4 separate regions of the Homo sapiens genome follow, and all the other regions are linked to region 1. Evidence: fine-mapped expression QTL. A gene starts in region 1. Each other region holds a variant in brackets. All regions are shown on one strand. Distances are between the middles of the regions.

Region 1 (5,038 bases):
GTATTTTTTTTTTTTTTTGAGACAAAGTCTCGCTCTGTCACCCAGGCTGGAATTCAGTGGTATGATCTTGGCTCACTGCAACATTTGTCTCCCGGGTTCAAGGATTCTCTTGCCACAGCCTTCTGAGTAGCTGGGATTACAGGTGTGCACCACCATGCCTGGCTAATTTTTGTATTTTAGTAGAGATGGGGTTTTACCATGTTGGCCAGGCTGGTGATGAACTCCTGACCTCAACTGATCCACCTGCCTTAGCCTCCCAACGTGCTGGGATTACAGGCACGAGCCACTGCGCTGCCCTTTGTTTTTTCATACACACTTTTGATTAGTTTGTGAAGGTCCAGAAAAAATTATGTTGGAAATTTGATTGGAACTGCATTGGACTGATAGATTAATTCCCCCATGAAAAAAATAGCTCAAGAGATGTTTATAGAATAAACAAACGTCTGAGGCCTGGCGTGGTGGCTCACACCTGTAATCCCAGCACTTTGGGAGGCCAAGGCCAGAGGATGGCTTAGCACAGAAATTCGAGACCAGCCTGGGCAATATAGTGAGACCACACCCCCCAGCTTTTCTTGAGAAAAAATTTAAAAAATTTAGCCAGGCGTGGCAGTATGTGCTTGTAGTCCCAGCTACTCCACAGACTGAGGCAGGAGGGTACCTTGAGGACAGGAAGTTGAGGCTACAGTGATGGAGCCTCTACACTCCAGCTTGGGCAACACAGCCAGACCCTGTCTCAAAAAAAAAAAGAGAAATGTTTTTGATACATGTCTTCAAAGTGCATCTTATAAGTCAACATTTGATAATGGAGATCAGTGAATGAATGAATAAGGGCCAAAGATAACTAAGATTAGCTAGCATATTATATTTATTTATTTATTTATTTTGAGACGAGTCTTGCTCTGTTGCCCAGGCTGGAGTGCAGTGGCCCAATCTCAGCTCACTGCAACCTCCACCTCCTGGGTTCAAGCAATTCTCCCACCTCAGCCTCCCGAGTAGTTGGGATAACAGGTGCCCGCCACTATGCTGGGCTAATTTTTCTTTTTCTTTTTTTTCTTTTTGGAGACAGAGTCTCACTCTGTTGCCTAGGCTGGAGTGCAGTGGCGTGATCTCAGCTCACTGCAACCTCCGCCTCCCGGGTTCAAGCGATTCTCCTGCCTCAGCTTCCTGAGTAGCTGAAATTCCAGACGTGCACCACCACACCAGGCTAATTTTTGTATTTTTAGCAGAGACAGATTTCACTATGTTGGCCAGGCTGGTCTCAAATTCCCGGCCTCAAGTGGTCCGCCCACCTTGGCCTCCCAAGGTGCTGGGATTACAGGAATGAGCCACCGCACCCGGCTTAATTTTTCTATTTTTAGTAGAAATGGGGTTTCACTATGTCGGCCTGGCTGGTCTCCAACCCCTAGCCTCAGGTGATCTGCCCGCCTCAGCCTCCCAAAGTGCTGGGATTACAGGTGTGAGCTACTGCGTCCTGCCCAGCCAGCATTATTATTATTATTTTTGAGACGGAGTTTCGCTGTTGTTGCCTAGGCTGGAGTGCAATGGCGTGACCTCGGCTCACCGCAACTTCTGCCTCCCGGGTTTCTAGTGCCTCAGCCTCCTGAGTAGCTGGGATTACAGGCATGCACCACTAGGCCTGGCTAATTTTTGCTATTATTAGTAGGGACGGGGTTTCTCCATGTTGGTCAGGTTGGTCTCAAACTCCCGACCTCAGGTGATCTGCTAGCCTTGGCCTGCTGGGATTACAGGCGTGAGCCACCGCCCCGCCAGCATACATCAATTGTCAGTAAATTTCTTCTTCGCCTACTAGTTCCAATATCTTATTTAAAATCTATGGCCCGGTGAGGTGGCTCAGGCTTGTAATCCCAGCACTTTGGGAAGTCAAGGCGGGTGGATTGCCTGAGTTCAGGAGTTCAAGACCAGCCTGGGCAAAATGGCGAAACCCCGTCACTCCTAAAAATACAAAAAATTAGCAGGGCGTGGTAGCACACTCCTGTAATCCCAGCTACTCAGGAGGCTGAGGCAGGAGAATCACTTGAACCCGGGAGGCGGAGGTTGCAGTGAGGCGAGATGGGCCACTGCACTCCAGCTTGGGCGACAGAGTGAGACTCTGTCTCAAAATGAATGAATGAATGAATGAATGAATGAATAAAATCTACGAGGTCGGGCGCAGTGGCTCACTCTTGTAATCCCAGCACTTTGGGCGGGCGGATCATTTGAGGTCAGGAGTTTGAGACCGGCTTGGCCAACATGGTGAAACCCCATCTCTAAAAAAAATACAAAAATTAGCTGTACTGCTTGGGCGACAGAGCGAGACTCAGTCTCAAAAAAAAAAAATCTACAAATCCACTTCATCTTTCATTAAACACGAACCTGGGACGTAGTTAGAATGTCTTGAAGAAAATATTTCAGTAATATTCCAAGTCCGTCGCCCTGGCAAAGCAACAAGGCCACCTGACGGAGTAAGCCCGAGACCCCTGTGCCTCCACAGTACTGCCCGCGGGATCGCGGCGTGGGGAACCAGGAACTACAAGTCCCGGCAGGCCGCGCGCGCCTCGGCTTCACTAAGCGCAGTCAGGTGGCTGTCCCCGCACGGTTCCCAGCTAATTCCCCGCTACCGGGTTGCGGCCGGAAGCCGGGCGCCGCGGCTCTGCTTCCCTCGGGGTGAGTAGGGGCAGCTCGCCGGAGGCCGGCGCAGAGCTCGGGCCGACCAGCCTGGCAGGGCCGCACCGCGCCTGGAGCGCGAGGGAACCGGCATGGACACGCCGGGAGTCGGCCTCTGCTCCGGTTGTGCAGCCGCCCTGGGCGCCGGGAGGGACAGCCCCATGACCTTGTCACCTGGGCCCGGCGCGCGGCCACGTGGCTCGGGTGACTCGCATTGCCCCGCCCCCCTGCAGTGACTTCTCCAGTTTGGCACACCAGTGGGCTTTCATGTGACCTGTCCACTTCAGTGGCACAGTCTTGCAGGCACCCGAGTGGGCAGAGCTGGAGGAGGGCCGGAGGTGGCTCACCCAGACGCCTTCACCCCCTGGTGGCCCTGTGAGTTCCGAGGCAGAAGCAGCTGGAGCTGGAGCGTGGTCTGGGCAAGAGCAGGGGGCGATGCCCATATCCTGGCCCTCCACCCGGTCTTGCGAACGTGCCCCAGACCGCTGCTTATCTCCAGCATCTTGCAGGGCCCTGGGCTTCCAGATCACACAGTAGATATGTGCTAACAGCAGCCAGTGTGTGTGGAGAGCAACCTTTAGATAAGACACCTAGAACAGCCCTCTCCCAGGGTTAAGTGGCATTTACTTTCTACTAACAAGAAAGTCATTCAACAAGTATTTATTGTTTACCTCCATGATACTTGGCACTTAGTAGGTGCTCAAGAAATATTTGCAGAGTTGAAGTGAATTAGACTTTATCTGTGGCTTCATATGTTTTATTTAATAATTTTCTTGGGGCTGGATGTGGTGGCTGATGCCTGTAATCCCAGCACTTTGGGAGGCCAAGATGGGAGGATTGCTTGAGGGCAGGAGTTCAACACCAGGCTGGGCAACATAGTGAGACTCCCGTCTGTATTAAAAGAAAAAAAGGAAAATAAATAAAATAATTTTCTTACTACAGTGGTTCTCAAACTTTAGCATGCACCAGAGTCACCTGGAGAGCTAGTAACAACACACAGTACTGGACCCCATCCCCAAAGTTTCTGATTCTGTAAGTCTGGTATGAGGACCAAGAATTGGCGTTTCTAACATGCACCCAAGTGATGCAGTTGCTGTTGGTCTGGGGACCATACGTTGAGTACCACTGCTTTATAGGAAAAAAAATCCTGTGAACTTAAAGCACTATCTCTTCACACCTGGTTACGGGTCTTTCTGTCTTTATTTGCCAGTTTTACTTTTTTGGTGATTGTAAATATGTGCATATTACTTTGTACACTGTTAACTCCCTCCATATTAATTTATATACAGATTTTAATGTAGTCTATACTTGTCATTTTTCCTGGTTACATCATATTCTACCTTATTGGGTCATTCTTTGCTTGGCCATTTCTCAACTGGCCTCAGGGATGTGCGATTTGATCTGTACTAGAAGAGTGTGCATATTCTTACTTTCTGCTATGCAGTCATTTTCTTGTCAGACAAAGGACCTGTAAGAATATTAGTTGGGGCCGGGTGCGGTGGCTCACACCTGTAATCCCAGCACTTTGGGAGGCTGAGGTGGGCGAATCACTTGAGGTCAGGCGTTCAATGCCAGCCTGGCCAACATGGTGAAACCCCATCTCTACCAAAAATACAAAAAAATTACCTGGGCGTAGTGGTGTGTGCCTGTAGTCCCAGCTACTTGGGAGGCTGAGGAGGAGAACAGCTTGAACCCGGGAGACGGAGGCTGCAGTGAGCCGAGATCGTGTCACTGCACTCCAGCCTGGGCGACTGAGCAAGACTCCGTCTAAAAAAAAAAAATTTAGTTGGGTCAGCCATCCATTTCTTCACCAGGGTAACTCACTAAATATGCCTCCTGGGTTAAGGTTTCCATGTTGCAGGGACTCCAGTGGCCTATTTCAGGGCCCAGCAAGCTGCTTGTTCTTGTGCACTTTTTGCTCTCTTGGTGGGAGCAGTCATACATGGATTCAAGTTCTGCCTCCATCACTTACCAGCTCCTTGGCCAAGTTTTCTACCTTTTCTAAAACACCACTTCCTTATCCATAGATTGAAGCTCTAATAGCATGCACCTCGGAATCTGGTTGTGTGAGTTAATGAGCTAATAAGTGCTTGGTACTGTAGCTCTCCCGTTGGAAGCTCACTCTCTTCTCTTACCTGCTGCTTGCTCTTTGCATCTGGCTTTGCCCTATTCTCCCTCAGTCTGCCTTTCCTAGGATGGACTGAATGGAGGATTTCTATTCCTTGCCTGGGTGAGAATTATTTTTGTTGTCTATTCTGGGACCTTGGCATCAGTCAGGGATTCCTTTTTTTATTTTTTGAGACAGAGTGTTGCTCTGTCGCCCAGGCTGGAGTGCAGTGGCACGATCTTGGCTCACTGCAGCCTCTGCCTCTCG
Region 2 (5,038 bases), 45 kb after region 1:
TTTTTTTGCTGACAAATTTAAGCAAATTATAGAAATCATGGCATGTCACCTGTAATTTCAGTGTGCATCTCTAAAAACTGATATTTTTCTAAGTTATCATGTGATTATCTCAGCTAATGATATTAACAGGAGTTCTTTAATTTCATCTAATTTCTATGTGTGTTCACTTGTCCGCCAAATGTGCTGCCTGTTGGTCTTCACATTGTCCCTGAGCTTTGTGCCTATTTTAGCTGTCTCTCTGAGGTTAGAGTGAGGCCTTCTTCCCTGTATCTTTCAGGGTATTTTTTTTTCCTTCCTTCCTTCCTTCCTTCCTTCCTTCCTTCCTTCCTTCCTTCCTTCCTTCCTTCCTTCCTTCATTTCCTCCCTCCCTCCTTCCCTTCCTCCCTTCCTTCCTTTCTATTTTTTTTTGTTTGTTTGTGATGGAGTCTCACTCTGTCACCCAGGCTGGAGTGCAGTGGCACAATCTTGCAATCTCCGTCTCCTGGGTTCAAGCAAATCTCCTGCCTCAGCCTCCAGAGCAGCTGGGATTACAGGCATGCACCACCACGCCCAGCTAATTTTTGTATTTTTAGTAGAGACAGGTTTCACCATGTTGGCCAGGCTTGTCTTGAACTGCTGACCTCAAGTGATCCACCTGCCTTGGCCTCCCAAAGTGCTGGGTTTACAGGTGTGAGCCATTGTGCCTGGTCGAGGGTATTTTTTCTTTTTCTTTTCTTTTCTTTTCTTTCTTTCTTTTTTTTTTTTTTTAAGACTAGGTCTTTTTCTGTCATCCAGGCTGGAATGCTGTGGCTGAAACATGGCTCACTGCATCCTCCACCTCCTGGGTTCAAGTGATTCTCCTGCCTCAGCCTCCTGAGTAGCTGGGATCACAGGTGTGTGCCACTACTCCTAACTAATTAAAAAATTTTTTTTGTAGACATGGGGTCTTACTAAGTTGCCCAGGCTGGTCTCAAACTCCTGGCTTCAAGTGATTCTCCCATCTCAGAATCTCAAAATGCTGGGATCACAGGCGTGAGTAACCTTGTCTAGCCAGAGTTTTGTTTTCTATTCTTTCCCACCAGCCCCCAAGAGCCCCAGGCTTTGAGGAAATGAAAAAGACTCCTGTCCCACATTCAGGCCTGTGGCCTGAGCAAGCATGGTGGGGAAGGGAAGCAGGCTGGCTGCTGCATTCTGCTCGCGGCCTAACACTTGTTTTTCTTGACTGTAATTGCCATTCCAGAGATGCCCTCACTCTTCTAGCCGCTGAACAACTGTTGAGAACAAATTAATTATGCATCTTCTCAGTGTGTGTGATTAAGGGGCAGATGGAGGGAAGGGTCCTCTTCAGCTTTTCTGGCAACTGGGTTCCCAAATGGATGCTTTCCAGACCAAAGAGTACATGTCCTGGGCTCCTGTGGGCATCTGGGTTTGTCTGTGTGATGGCAGGCTTGCTCACTGGCAGGCAGAGTCACAAGTTGCCAGTAATAATATTATTAATCCCTTAAATTTGCAGCCCATTTGCTGTTTGCTGAGGGCTTGCACAGTCACATCAGCTCATTTGTTGGGATTTCAGGGATGCTGGAACAACTTTCTTTGCTTAATTCTTCCCTAAATCATTATTGATGCTTGTAATTCCACCATTAGAAAGTAATTCCTTTCGCTTAAACTCTGTTCTCTATTAAAATGCAAGTATCCTTGGCAGCTGTGTTGTATGTTTTATTCATTAAGCTTTCTTAGCCACTAGCAACTGCCCTCTCCAGATACCCCCATCTGCCACCTTCCTTTTAGGATGGGCTTCTCTGAAACAGAACTTACATTTGGAAACTGTCCCATTTCATAGAAATCTGCTCTAGGTTAGTTGCTCTGGCTGGAAAGAGACAGGTAAAGAAACTCCTGCCAGGATGTGAATGACTGATCATAATTTCTTTTTTTCTTTTTTTTTTCTGGAGACAGAGTCTCACTCTGTTGCTCAGGCTGGAGTGCAGTGATGTGATCTCCCCTTACTGCAACCTCTGCCTGGAGGTTCAAGCAATTGGGTTCAAGCAATTCTTGTGCTTCAACTTCCCAAGTAGCTGGGACTACAAGCGCACACCACCATGCCCGGTGAATTATTTTTGTATATTACTAGAGACAGGGTTTCACCATGTTGGCCAGGATGATCTTGATCTCCTGACCA[C/T]GTGTTCCAACCACCTCGACCTCCCAAAGTGCTGGGATTACAGATGTGAGCCACCACGCCTGGCCTGATCATAATTTCTTATGTTACCACCTCTAGGGAAGATTCTTATTTTGACTGGAACCTTCTGGAAACAGTGCTCAATGCAAAGGAACCGGTGTCCCTTCATCCTATCATGTCAGTGGCGTTGGTCTTAGCTCTCCCCCCTGTTGGACTCCCTTAGAGAGGCAGTGTGGGGAGCCGGCCCCGTCAGGTCCACCAAGAGCAGACTCGGTCTGTGTAACTCAGATTGGGCGTTGGCCTGGAGTGTAGTTCATTGGGACAGGGGAGAAAATGGAGCTGACCACATAGATGATGGTGTGACAGACTGTCCATCTTGCAGAAGGAAGACTGAGGCATAGAGACAATAATCTACTTGGAGTTGGGGCTAGAATTAAAATTTTGTCTTTAGAACCCCAGTAACAGTTATAGGTTTTTAAGAGTCAGAAGACACCTTAGAAACATCTAGCTCTGGGAAAGCAAAGACATTTCATTTGCAAACTCCACTTGATTAGTAGTGGTTGTCTGAGTGCAGGTTGGAGAATAGGCAAGTCGTCACCTGGACTCAGAGTGCGTGCTGTGGTTGATTAGTGATGTCTGATGTGTGCCACGGGCACAGTAACAGAGGAGAGGCGCATATGCACTCACTTCCTATTCCTGACCCTGCTCAACTTCTCAATTTACAGATGAGCTGAGGCCCAACAAGCTGAGATGATTTGTTCAGGATTGCATAAGTAGGGGCAGTAATTGGCAGAATTGTCCCAGAATCCAGGTCCCTTGAGTCTTGATTCAAAACTTTTTCTTCTGAATTATACTGGTATTCTAAGAGGTATTTCATTATGGTCTTGGAGTTAGACTGCCGGGATTCAGATCCCAGCTCTGCCACTAATAAGCTGTGTGGCCTTAGCCAAGCCATTTAACCTTTCTGAGCCTTAACTTCATCTTTAAAAGAGAGGATAATAATTATGCCTACCATAAATGAGAAAATACATGTATAAAGGGTTCAGAGTAGGGCCTAACACATAGTAAATACTTAATCCATGATAGTAGCTCAATTAAAATGTTCCTTTTTTTTTCTTCCTTTTTGTTGAGACTGGGTCTTGCTCTGTCACCTAGGCTGGAGTGCAGTGGCACAATCTCAGCTCCTTGCAACCTCCATCTCCCGGGTTCAAACAGTTTTCCTGCCCCAGCCTCCTGAGTAGCTGGGACTACAGGCACATGCATCACCACACCCGGCTCATTTTTGTATTTTTAGTAGAGATGAGGTTTCACCATGTTGACCAGGTTGGTCTCGAGTTCCTGGCCTCAAGTGATCTGCCCACCTCGGCCTCTCAAAGTGCTGGGATTACAGGCATGAGCCACCGCACCTGGCCAAAATGTTCCTTTTTAAATTGCTTTATCTTTCTAGATTCTTGGTGGACACAGACACAAAATCATCCCCTGCTCACTCCCTCTGCAGTATCCCTCAGAGTTGCCTGTCAGAAATACCTGCTTCTCTTTCTTTTCCATGGTATGCTCTGGAATCATTTGGGTTTGAAGTGCTCCTGGAATTTGCAATTTCATAATGAAAAGTCCCACAGTACTAATAACCAGGTGTGAGATGGTGCTGGATCTGTAACTACCTGTGGCTCTGGGGCAGCTTTTGCTATCGTACTTCACACTCCAGAAGTTCATTTTGGTTTGGGTGTGTGATGCAGCTCTGGAGGCTTGGCTGTGGTTCCCCAAGAACCAGCTGCCACATGGGGCCTCTCTTGGCCATTTTGCTTAGTTGCTCCTCTGACCAGAACATCACTATAGTATCTCCTTCCGACCATCTCTGCTCCCCTAAGCCAGTGTATCTTCTCCCACCTACCCTGAACCTCGTTCTTAGACTGGACTTCAATAGCCAGCTGGTGCCACCCCCGTCTTCTCACAGCTGCCTCTCCTATAGGCTTAGAAAGCAGGGCCTAGTCAAAGCCTAGACCCAAAGCTATGCTATGGTCCTCTCCCCATCTTAATCCAGCCATGCAGGACCCTGGGTAACAGTTCCCTTTGGGTGACCCTGAGGGGGACCCAGGGAAGCCTTGAGAAGCAGTCGGAGTCCATGACTGTCCTGGAAGCCAGGCCTGGTGTGATGGGGCTTTGAGCTGACCCCTGCATGATTCAAGACAGGACTGTGGAGGGCTTTCTGGGTGTCTTGTGATGGGCAGGTGGCTCTCATTGAGTGAATCATCTGTGATTCCATATCCTGACTGGTTTTTGGGAAAAACCCCTGTTCTGGATCCTCCAACAGAGACCCTCTAGTGATCTGCCCAGCTGATCCCTGCTGAGAAAGGGCAGAGTGGGGGCTGGTGGGAAGGAGGCCTTCCCACTGGGGAACGGTCAAGTCATTGTCCCTGACATTGGAAAGCTCTGTTGCTCTGGGTCTCTCACTGGGTCCCAGACTCGTTTGGTTGCAACCTGGCCATGTCTAGGGTTGCTCCCCTGCTTTTTCTTCTGTGGACCCGAAGCGGAGAAGCTGATCATATCCATGGAGCTGCTGCATGGGCAGAAGCCCCATCTTCTCCAAGAGAGGCTCAGACAAAAAGAGGATTTTGAGCCACACTGGGTGAAAGGAACTCCTTGCTCTGCCCTTCATCCTGGGATTGTGGAAGGCAGTAACATCACTTGTGAGAGGGGAGAGGCGTGGCACGGAGAATGGGTCAAGTCAGGACTAGGAGGAGGTGAAGGGAGGCAGGCTTGGGTCCAGGCTGAGAGGATTTTTCGCAGGTGAAAAGGAGAGTGGTGTGGTGAGATTATGGAGATGCTATGCAAGGGCCTGGGGGCAGGGGATGGCACAGGAGAGAGCTGATAACTGTGGTTGGAGGG
Region 3 (5,038 bases), 99 kb after region 1:
CAAAGCTGTAAATGCCTTGTAGTTAATAGTCTGGCTTTAGATTGATTTCTTTTGCCAACACAGCATTGGGCAAAATATCATAGAACAGGGCAAAAAGAAGCATGAGACAAGGCTTTTATCTGGGGCTCAGTAAGTCTTTCTGGAAAGATGGGAAGGGGAAGGTCTTTTGGTACCAACAGGCCCACAGCTTGTTAGTTCTTATTGCCATCTGCTATAGCCAGGGTTAGAGATGGTTGTTCTCAGATAACTCGGACTGTCATTTATACTAAGAATTACTGGGTCAATCAGTCAATGTTCTCCCCAGGCCTGGCTTCGAATGCCAGCAGGAGAGCTTATGGGAGGTCAGGGCCCTTCTGTTTCCCTCCCAGAATTCTGGAACACCTCCTATGTCCCTGGTATCACCCTTGCTCACCCACTACAGAGCCATCATCCAGGAACTTGGGCACCCATCTCAAATCCAGGGCCCTGGTGGTGGGGCAGCCTTAGGATTGTGTCTCTGCTCATGGCAGGGGCTGTGGTATGCTGTGCACAGATCACTGGGCTCTTCTTTAATTTCACATCATTAAACTGACCCCTGAATGCCAGATACATCTTCTAAAACCCCCTCTTAACATGTCATCACTCAAGAATCCACAGTGGAGTCAAATTGCCAAAAATCAAAGCTTTTCATCCAAGTGGTCAAATTCCTTCTCTCTGTCTCCTCTCGTCTTATCCAGCTTTGTTTTCTTATTCCAATTTAGTTTTTTATTATGAAACATTTTAGACGTACAGAAAGTATAGAAAATAGTATTATAAATGTTCAAGCACCAAACATTCAACTTAAGAAATAAAGTAATGACAGTTACATTTGCAGCACCCTCCCAGTGCTTTGTGAACAGACCAGAACAGATCGGGGAGCAGCCACAGCAGCAGTTGAGCTAAGTGTTTCAGAGCAAGGGCTGTAGAGTTGGCTGTGGAATTCCCAGGGGGAATTCTAGCTCGGTACTTCCTTGCTGGGCAGATTTTTTGAAAATCATATAACCCCTCAGAGCCTCAAATTCCTCATCTATAAAATGGGATAGCACTTTGGTAGGCTGAGGCAGGAGGACTGCTTGAGGACAGGAGCTTGAGACCAACCTGGGCAACACAGTGAGACTCTGTCTCTACAAAAAAATTAAAAAAATTAGCTGGGCATGGTGATGCATATCTGTAATCCCAGCCACTCAGGAGGCTGAGGTGGGAGGATCACTTGAGCCTTGGAGGTCAAGGTTGCAGTGAACTGTGATTGATCACGCCACTGCATTCCAGTCTGGGCTACAGAGTGACATCTTGTCTAAACAACAGAAAAGGGATGATAAGATGTGTATCTGTGTGCCTCCCAGAGTTGTTGCAAGGATTAAGTTTAGTAGTAAGTAAAGTGCTTAGTTTACTATTCGCAGTAGCAAAGATGTGGAATCAACCCAAATGCCCATCAATGGGAGACTGGATAAAGAAAATGTGGTAGATATACACCATGGAATACTATGCAACCATAAAAAGGAATGAGATCATGTCCTTTGCAGGGTCATGGATGAAGCTGGGAGCCATTATCCTCAGCAAACTAATGCAGGAACAAAAAAACCCAAAGACCGCTTGTTCTCACTTATAAGTGGGAACTGAACAATGAGAACACATGGACACAGGGAGGGGAACAACACACCTGGGGCCTGTTGGGCGACGGTTGGGGGGTGGGGGAGAGCATTAGGAAAAAGAGCTAATGCATGCCAGGCTTAATACCTAGGTGATGGGTTGATAGGTGCAGTAAACCACCATGACACACGTTTACCTATGAAACAAGCCTGCACATCCTACACACATATCCCAGAACTTAAAAAATAAAATAAAATAAAAAATAAGTGCTTAGTTAGTGCTGGGCACGAGGGGAACCCTCAGCAAGTGGTAGTCATGGTTACCGATGCTGGCTGTTGGGCTATCATCATCTTGGACTTGGTGCAGAGTACCAAGCTTATGGGAGAGCAGGAGCCTACTATGTTTCCCTCCTGGAATTCAGAGGAGGGATGGGCCCCAGGGGAGCAGTTTCCCTTACTCTAGGGGAGAACCAGGCAGGAAGGTAGGGAATGTCCCTTGGTATATGCTGTGGGCCAAATGACTGGGGTGCTTGTTGGATTTCAGGTGCTCGTTCTGGCTGTGAAGCAGCTGTTCCCAGAGTTTGAGTTTATGTGGCTTGTGGATGAAGCCAAGAAGAACCTGCCTTTGGAGCTGGATTTCCTCAATGAAGGGAGGAATGCTGAGAAGGTGTCCCAGATGCTCAGGCATTTTGACTTCTTGAAGGTAGGTGGGACGATGCAATGCAGGGTATGGTGGTCTGGTGGAAGAGTGTAGCGGTATGTGGGTCCCTGCCTTGAGCATCCCTTTCAGGACATAATTGGGACATCTTCTTCCTGAGTCCTCTTACTGAGGATGAATGACATCACTGGTGATGTGCATTAAATCACTTGAAGGCAATTTGCAAAGAAATATCAAGTGTGATTGTTGACCCATTAGTCAATTAAACAGATGTTTATTGAATAATCGACAACTACAAGACACTGAGCCTTAGCCAAGAACCTATATGCCGTGGTCTCTGCCTCTGTGAGGCATGGGATGGTGATGATGATGGCGATGCTGATAGCTAACACTACTGTACGCTGGGACTGTTTTAAACACATGTGTTTTACCTTGGCTCATACAGTTGGTTCTTCTGTAACAAAACATATGTGTCCCTAGAAATACTGCAGTTATGGAAAATCACATAAGAGAAACCACAGAGCTTATGGGGAAAATAGAGTTAGGGGCACAACACTCAAAAAAATTCATCAGTGGCTGGGCACAGTGGCTCACACCTGTAATCCCAGCACTTTGGGAGGCTGAGGCAGGTGGATCACCTGAGGTCAGGAGTTCGAGACCAGCCTGGCCAACATGGTGAAACCTCGTCTCTACTAAAAATATAAAAATTAGCCTGG[C/T]GTGGTGGCATGTGCCTGTAATCTCAGCTGTTTGGGAGGCTGAAGCAAGAGAATCACTTGAACCCGGGAGGTGGAGATTGCAGTGAGCTGAGATCACGCCACTGCATTCAGGTCTGGGCAACAAGAGTGAAACTCCGTCTCAAAAAAAAAAAAAAAGAAAATTCATCAGTAATACAGTAATATAGGAAAGAAAAGAAGATAGGAATGAATAAAAACCAGTAGCATAGTTTTACACATGTTAAATGGCTAAGAAATACATAAGACCACAATACACATGGCACTTTACCTTGAGCCTGCTGTGGAAGTGGGCATCAGAAGGGTTGCTGCTTGTTAGTTTTGTGGGGTGGTGGGAGGAGTCCTTTGAAATGGGACGGAGGCTGGGCATGGTGGCTGATGGCAGTAATCGCAGTTCTTTGGGAGGCGGAGGTGGGCAGATCACTTGAGGGAAGGAGTTCAAGACCAGCCTGGCCAACATGGTGAAACCCTGTCTCTACTAAAAATACAAAAAGTAGCTGGGCATGGTGGTGCACTCCTGTAATCTCAGCTACTCGGGAGGCTGAGACAGGAGAATCGCTTGGACCCAGGAGGCAGACGTTGTAGTGAGCTGAGATCATGCCATTGCATTGCAGCCTGGGCAACAGAGCGAGACTGCGTCTCAAGGAACAACAACAACAACAAAAAAGAAATGGGACAGAAAGTTGTAAGGCCAGATGTGGGTGACTCACCGACTCGCAGCGATGTCGAGGTGTGTTTGTTTTGTGTATTCCAATGTGGCACGGCTCTGCTGGATGCAGCTTTCTGCATTCACAGTGTTTCTCGCAGATGATAGTACACATAAGCACATCCAAAATTTGCATTATGATCAAACTATTCCCTAACATATCAATTGCATTGGAACAAATTTGTGTTTTCAAAACAAGTATTATAGCAGAACTGTTCTATGTAATAAGAGACACTTAATGTGGGAAACAATATCAGATAATATGAAGTCGCAGCTGTCAGTGCCCCATGAGAAGTACGGCTTCTACATGCTCTGAGGATTCAGAAGTAGGGACTCCCATGGCCTACTGGGTCAGGGCAGGCTCTGCTGAGAAGTTGGCACTAGAGTTGGTGTTCTTTTTTTTTTTTTTTTTGAGACAGAGTCTCGCTCTGTTGCCCAGACTGGAGTGCAGTGGCGCGATCTCAGCTCACTGCAGTCTCCGCCTCCTGGGTTCAAGTAATTCTCCTGTCTCAGTCTCCCAAGTAGCTGGGATCATAGGCATGTGCCACCATGCCTTACTAATATTTGTATTTTTTTTTTTAGTAGAGATGGGGTTTCACCATGTTGTCAGGCTAGTCTTGAACTCCCGACCTCAAATGATTTGCCCACTTTGGCCTCCCAAAGTGCTGAGATTACAGGTGTGAGCCACTGCTCCTGGCCCTGGAGCTGGTCCTTTTTTTTTTTTTTTAATTAATTATTTTATTATTATGATTTTTCTGAGTCAGAGTCTCACTCTGTCACCCAGGCTGGTGCGTAGTGGTGCAATCTCTGCTCACTGCAACCTCCACCTCCCGGGTTCAGGCGATTCTCCTGCCTCAGCCTCCTGAGTAGCTAGGACTACAGGTGTGTGCCACCACACCTGGCTAATTTTTGTATTTTTAGTAGAGACACGGTTTTGCCATTTTGGCCAGGCTGGTCTCAAACTCCTGACCTCAAATGATCCGCCTGCCTCGGCCTCCCAAAGTGCTGGGATTATAGGCGTGAGCCACCGCGGCCGGCCGGAGCTGGTCTTTAAGGACCATCCTGGTGTTCTCTCAGAGCACACAGGAACTGGGGAGAGAGATGTATGCTACACCACTGTTCTTCCAACACATTTGTCCTTCCTGAGGTGTATGCCTATTAAAACAGGGTTACCCCCTTTATCCCAACAGTGCAGGGCTTGGAGGGCTCTTCTGGTTGTCTACACTGAGCTTAGCTTCCAACTCTAGGATGGATCACCCTTCCCTCTTCTTTACCAGGCCTGGAGAATGCACGAGAGGGGTCACCAAGCCCTCAGGAGCTCCATGTGCAGGTTCTA
Region 4 (5,038 bases), 110 kb after region 1:
CAAAACATTTGAAAAAGCTGCCCATGTTTCTTTATTTGTAAGAGGAAATAAACTCCTCACAATTTGGGGGAAACTCGGCATGCTGGAAGCCCAGTAACCCCTCCCTCCTGGCTGTGGGGGTACTGGTGGGTGTCCCTTGCTCACATGGCAGCCTGGTTGCATTCTAGTCTCTTGCCCGCTCCTGGAGAAATCTGTTCTCTTTTTGGTTTTTGAGTGTTATGAGAGTCAGAGAGGGTTGGAGAGTGTATGTTAGTAATGCATTTGTCTGTAGGCAACTGAAAGCCTCATTTAGAGTGCCTTAAACAAAAGAATTTGTTGTCTTCACATAGCAAGAAGGTTTGCAGTGGTTGCCTACTGACATATGGTTTTGGTGGTTTAACAGTACCAGAGCTGGCTTCTCAGATTTTTAAATTTTTTTATTTTTCCTCATTGTTGCAAGATGGCTGCTACAGCACCAACAGTCACATTCACATTCACTTTCGAGGCAAGAAGAGAAGTGGAAGAAGAGTAGCACTATGCAAATACCCCCTTTTTTTTAAATCAAGGAAATAAAAACCTTCCCAGAATCCCCTAGCAGGTTTCCATTTTTGTTCATAAGTCAGAACTATGTCACATGGCCATACCTACTATAAAGCAGGCAAGGAAAGTATTTAGGTTTTTTATTTGTTTGTTTGTTTTCAGACAGGATCTTGCTCTGTTGCCCAGGCTGGAGTGCAGTGGTGTGATGTATAAGGTCACAGCACACTGGCTTTGACAGCGATCCTCCCACCTTAGCCTCCCAAGCTGGGATCACAGGCACGCACCACTATGCCTGGCTAATTTTTGTATTTACTGTAGAGACAGGGTTTCGCCACGTTGCCCAGGCTGGTCTTGAACTTCTGAGCTCAAGCAATCCACCTGCCCCAGCCTCCCAAAGTGCTGGGATTATAGGTGTGAGCCACTCCGCCTGGCCCCAGTATTTAGTTTTTTTCATCTCTAGGGAAGAGGAGGGTTGGGAATAGATGTTGGGTTAATATCCAATGTTGTCTGCCCCAGGAAACGTGTTTTCCTACAGGAAACAGGCATGAGAAACAAAATTTATCATCTGGTTAAAACTCAGTCATTTGCTCAATACACACAATGCACCCATTACCTGGGTGAAATATTGGAGGCAGAGGGAGGAGTCCGAAGTAGGCCTGGTGGCGGGATGGGGAGAGGAAATATCCTTAACAGCAATGCCCAGGTGTGAGGTGTTCCAACATTTTCCTCCCAAGTCCCAACTTTAGTTTTGGCTCTTAACAGCATTAGAAGGCACTGAGGAGAGTTGGCAAAGCCGGTATCTAAAGGAGTGGGCGGAGGCCTGCTGAGCAGAGGTGGAGTAGCCAGCCTCCCTCTTGGCCTGGCTGTCCCATCCCCACTGTCACCGCTGAGGTCCCTCCTGGGCCTCTTCTCCCTTGCTCTGGGAGGAGCCTCTGTTGCTGTCTGGCTCGCTGTGCCACATTGTCATCCTTGCCCGATTCCCAGCTTCCCCAGACCATCTGACCTGTCCCTTCCTATCCCAGGTCCCCCGAATCCACTGGGACCTGTCCACGGAGCGGGTCCTCCTGATGGAGTTTGTGGATGGCGGGCAGGTCAATGACAGAGACTACATGGAGAGGAACAAGATCGACGTCAATGAGGTGAGGTCAAGAGCTCAGGGCTGCTGTGCCGGGGAACGTGGGCTTGGTCAAGGCTGCCCAGGAAGTGCCTGTGTGTCCAGGTGAGGCCTCAGAGTCTGGCCCCCTTGTCTTTAATAGGGCCCATTGTCTGGAGAATTATAAACTTTGAGCAAGAAAGATTCTTTCAGGTCATTTAGGCCAGCCCTGTGCACACAGCGGCCTGCAGGGACATGCTGAACCCCTTCTGCCATTACCTGCTTTTCCTTTGTACCATCTGAGCCCCACAAAGCTAAGCGGCCACAGAGAACAATGATGCAAAATCAGTGGGACTTAATCCTTTTGGCTCTGTGGGGCCTGTCTGTTGTCTCTTCCCTCTTCCTGCCCTTCTCTCTCCTTCCCACTTCCCAGATCTCAAGGGATCAGGCAAAAAGGGGACAGCAGCAACCAACTGCATCAGCCTCCTAGAGCAGGAAAAAAGAGGTGGGCTTTGTGTGTCCCCCCTCCCATCCCCCTTGTCCCAGGGAATACTGGCCAGTGGGTA[G/A]GACCTGTCCCTCACTTTCTGCTTCTTGGTTGCACAGGGTCCCACAGGAATGGGTGGAGTTGTACTTTTTCAACAACATTCATAATTTCATTTTTATGTTTTTAGAGATGGGGTCTTGCTCTGTTGCCTAGACTGGCGTGCAGTGGCACAATCATAGTTCACTGTAATCTGGAACTCCTGGGCTCAAGCAGTCCTCCCACTTTGGCCTCTCAAAGTGCTGGCATTACAGGTGTGAGCCACGTGGCCAGGCTCAACATTGATCATTTTAATAGTGTCTGCTATATGCTAGGTATGGGGGCTCGCAGGGGGACCAGACCTAGTCCCCAGAGCTTAGCATCAGAGTCAGACACACATCTAAATCCTTGCTGTATCTCAGGCAGCGAGAGGGTGTGAGGAGAACCCCAGGGAGAGTGAGGAAGAGGCACTGAGGCCTGCCACAGGTTGGTGTCCCCAGCAGGATGAGTAGGAGTTTTCCAGGGAGTGGCTTTGCAAGAAGGGGAAGGGAATGGGTGAAGTTTGGCAGGGCTGGGGCAGGATTCCTTGGGGTGTGTGGGGAGATAAAGTAATGGTCTTGGGTGTGACCTTGAGGCACTGTGGAGTCACTTCAGGGTTTTGGGGAGTGCAGCAACATGTTCTGCCCTCTGGGATGGAAGGAAGGAAGTGGGCCACGCCCAGTGGAGGTAAATGCTTTTTTTTTTTTTTTTTTTTTCCCTGAGACGGAGTTTTGCTCTTGTTGCCTAGGCTGGAGTGCAATGGCGCAATCTTGGCTCACTGCAACCTCCGCCTCCTGGGTTCAAGTGATTCTCCTGCCTCAGCCTCCCAAGTAGCTGGGATTACAGGCATGCGCTACCATGCCTGGCTAATTTTGTATTTTTAGTAGAGACAGGGTTTCTCCATATTGGTCAGGCTGGTCTTGAACTCCTGACCTCGGGTGATCCGCCTGCCTCGATCTCCCAAAGTGCTGGGATTACAGGCGTGAGCCACCGCGCCTGGCTGTGAATGCTCTTTTCTATTCCACTCCCCATGTCCACAGGCAGTGCATGAAGATGAGCGTGAGCATGTGGTCCCAATGGGGAGTTGGCCCACAGGAGAAAGCCATACCTTGGCTCAGCAGATGAGCCCAGGGGGGTGGCAGGGGAGTGTGGTGGTTGCACAGGCCTCCTGGTGGCCATGTGACTGCTGTAAATGGGGTCAGTATCTGCCTCTAAGAGGGGCTGTGAAGACTATGTGAGTTAGGGTGCAAACAGTGCTAAGCACAGTGCCTGGTGTGTGGCTAGCATTCCAGAAGAGTAGCTGGGTGGTGGTTGTTGATTTCCTTATATTATCTTTGGGCTCTGTTCTTTCTTTCTCCTTTTACCATTAGCATTTATTGCATGCCTAACTTCCCTGTGCCAGGCCCTTTTCTCCATAATAAACTTATGAGGGTGGTCTCATTGTCTCCATTTTGCAGACAAAGAATCAGAGTCTCAGAGAGAGAAGGTCACACAGCTTAGCAGAGGTGGGATTGAGACCTGAGTCTCCCTGATTTCACTCTTCCTGTTAGGCCACAAAGGAGGGGCCGCATCAAAGTGCACAGAGCTGCTGCCAGGAGCATGGTGGGAACGTTTCTCTGTGGCTGGCTCAGGCCTTCTAGGAAAGCTGTTGTCCCCTGACTTAGGGAACAGTGCTTCAATAACCCATTCAAGGGCCTTGGGGTGTGTGGGATATGGGCAGGCTACACTGAAACAGATACCACTCTGTTTTACCCAGGGCAGCTTTGCCAATGCGTGAGCTGCCTATTGGACTTTTCTGGAAGAGTTCTGCTGCTTGGAGGGAAAGGGATGAGAAAAAGAGTTCATCCTTCTATTTTACAGATGGGGTGAAAAGTTCTGAGAGGGAGCAAATGTCTTTCCTGAGGTCACTTGGCCAGTAACACAAGTCAGGGCTTCTGACTCTGCTGCCTTCACTGGTGGCTTCTAGGGTGGTACATGGGAGGTGTTCAAGCAGAATACAGTCTTTGGTTCCAGTGGCGAAGGGATTCGATGGGATGGGAGGCCACCTCTGGCCTTTCCTGAACGGCCTTAAAGGGAAACAGGGTCTGTCGCCTGCTGATCAGGAAATATCCCAGAGGCCTCATCCCCGCCAGGTTCCTGGCATTTACTTACTACCAGCTGTGGAGGCATTTTCATTCCAGCAACACCCTCAAGTCCATTAATCTCTTTGGATCCAGTGAGCCCAGAGCCGTAATGGTGTTTAATCAGAGGCAACGTTGATTTTCCAAACAAATGCAAACACAGAAAGGTGCGCTCTGGGTAGTTGTTTGCTTATGGCTGAGTGCTGTGCCTGGCCGGAGGGGGCAGCTAGGCTGGAGCTGGGCAGTAGGAGCTGGGCAGGGCGTACCCTCTGAGGACTGGTCTCATCTGCTTCTGCCTCCCCGCTCTTTTGATACCTTGTAGATAAAGCCAGTGGTCTGTGCAGAGCAGATCCTTGGTAGACATTCTTAAATTAGTGAATGGGTAAACAAACCAGCCTCACACCCTAGATTGGCCTCTACCAGGCAGGCCTAGGGGAGAGTGTTGGTTGTTTTCTTGTGGACATGCAGAATGGGGCAAGCTGATATCAGAGTTATTTGGGGAAAAACAATAACTAATAATAATTATAAGCAACTAATATGTGCCAGGCATATGACACACATAATCTCTACTCATTACAGCTCTCCTATACAGTATATATTATTAACCCTATTTACAGATGAGAAAGCAAATGCTCAGAGAGGTTAAACAACTTGCCCCGTATCACACAGCTAGCAGGGGTAGAACCAGGGTTTGAACTCAGGTCTGCATGACTCCAAAGTCCTTGCCCCTCTACCTTCTCCATTTCC

Alleles and levels. Alleles are on the strand shown, and positions count from the first base shown. SD is a standard deviation of normalised expression in the study named. Not every link is listed here.
For the expression in cerebellar hemisphere of the gene that starts at base 2,603 in region 1, allele A in region 4 goes with a lower level than allele G (moderate effect, 0.59 SD a copy in GTEx).

Evidence for each region. PIP is the estimated chance that this variant, and not a neighbour inherited with it, causes the effect.
Region 2: its variant is fine-mapped to the expression of ADCK1 in whole blood (INTERVAL, PIP above 0.99).
Region 3: its variant is fine-mapped to the expression of ADCK1 in tibial nerve (GTEx, PIP 0.98).
Region 4: its variant is fine-mapped to the expression of ADCK1 in cerebellar hemisphere (GTEx, PIP above 0.99). The same link has a PIP of 0.9 or more in breast and spinal cord.

The regions. Positions count from the first base shown.
Region 1 is chr14:77,797,507-77,802,544 of GRCh38, forward strand. ADCK1 (aarF domain containing kinase 1) reads left to right here and starts at 2,603. Exons shown (of 11, transcript NM_020421.4): 1 at 2,603-2,664. RefSeq lists enhancers at 1,928-2,466, 2,467-3,005, 3,079-3,128, 3,139-3,218, 4,600-5,038 and a silencer at 2,529-2,888.
Region 2 is chr14:77,842,161-77,847,198 of GRCh38, forward strand. The region is part of intron 3 of ADCK1 (aarF domain containing kinase 1); the gene reads left to right. Among named protein-coding and RNA genes, the nearest start is that of ADCK1, 45 kb to the left of the region's middle. The variant C/T (reference allele first, on the strand shown) is at 2,156.
Region 3 is chr14:77,896,949-77,901,986 of GRCh38, forward strand. It overlaps ADCK1 (aarF domain containing kinase 1), which reads left to right. Exons shown (of 11, transcript NM_020421.4): 6 at 2,152-2,310. Among named protein-coding and RNA genes, the nearest start is that of ADCK1, 99 kb to the left of the region's middle. The variant C/T (reference allele first, on the strand shown) is at 2,982.
Region 4 is chr14:77,906,262-77,911,299 of GRCh38, forward strand. It overlaps ADCK1 (aarF domain containing kinase 1), which reads left to right. Exons shown (of 11, transcript NM_020421.4): 7 at 1,542-1,658. Among named protein-coding and RNA genes, the nearest start is that of ADCK1, 110 kb to the left of the region's middle. The variant G/A (reference allele first, on the strand shown) is at 2,179.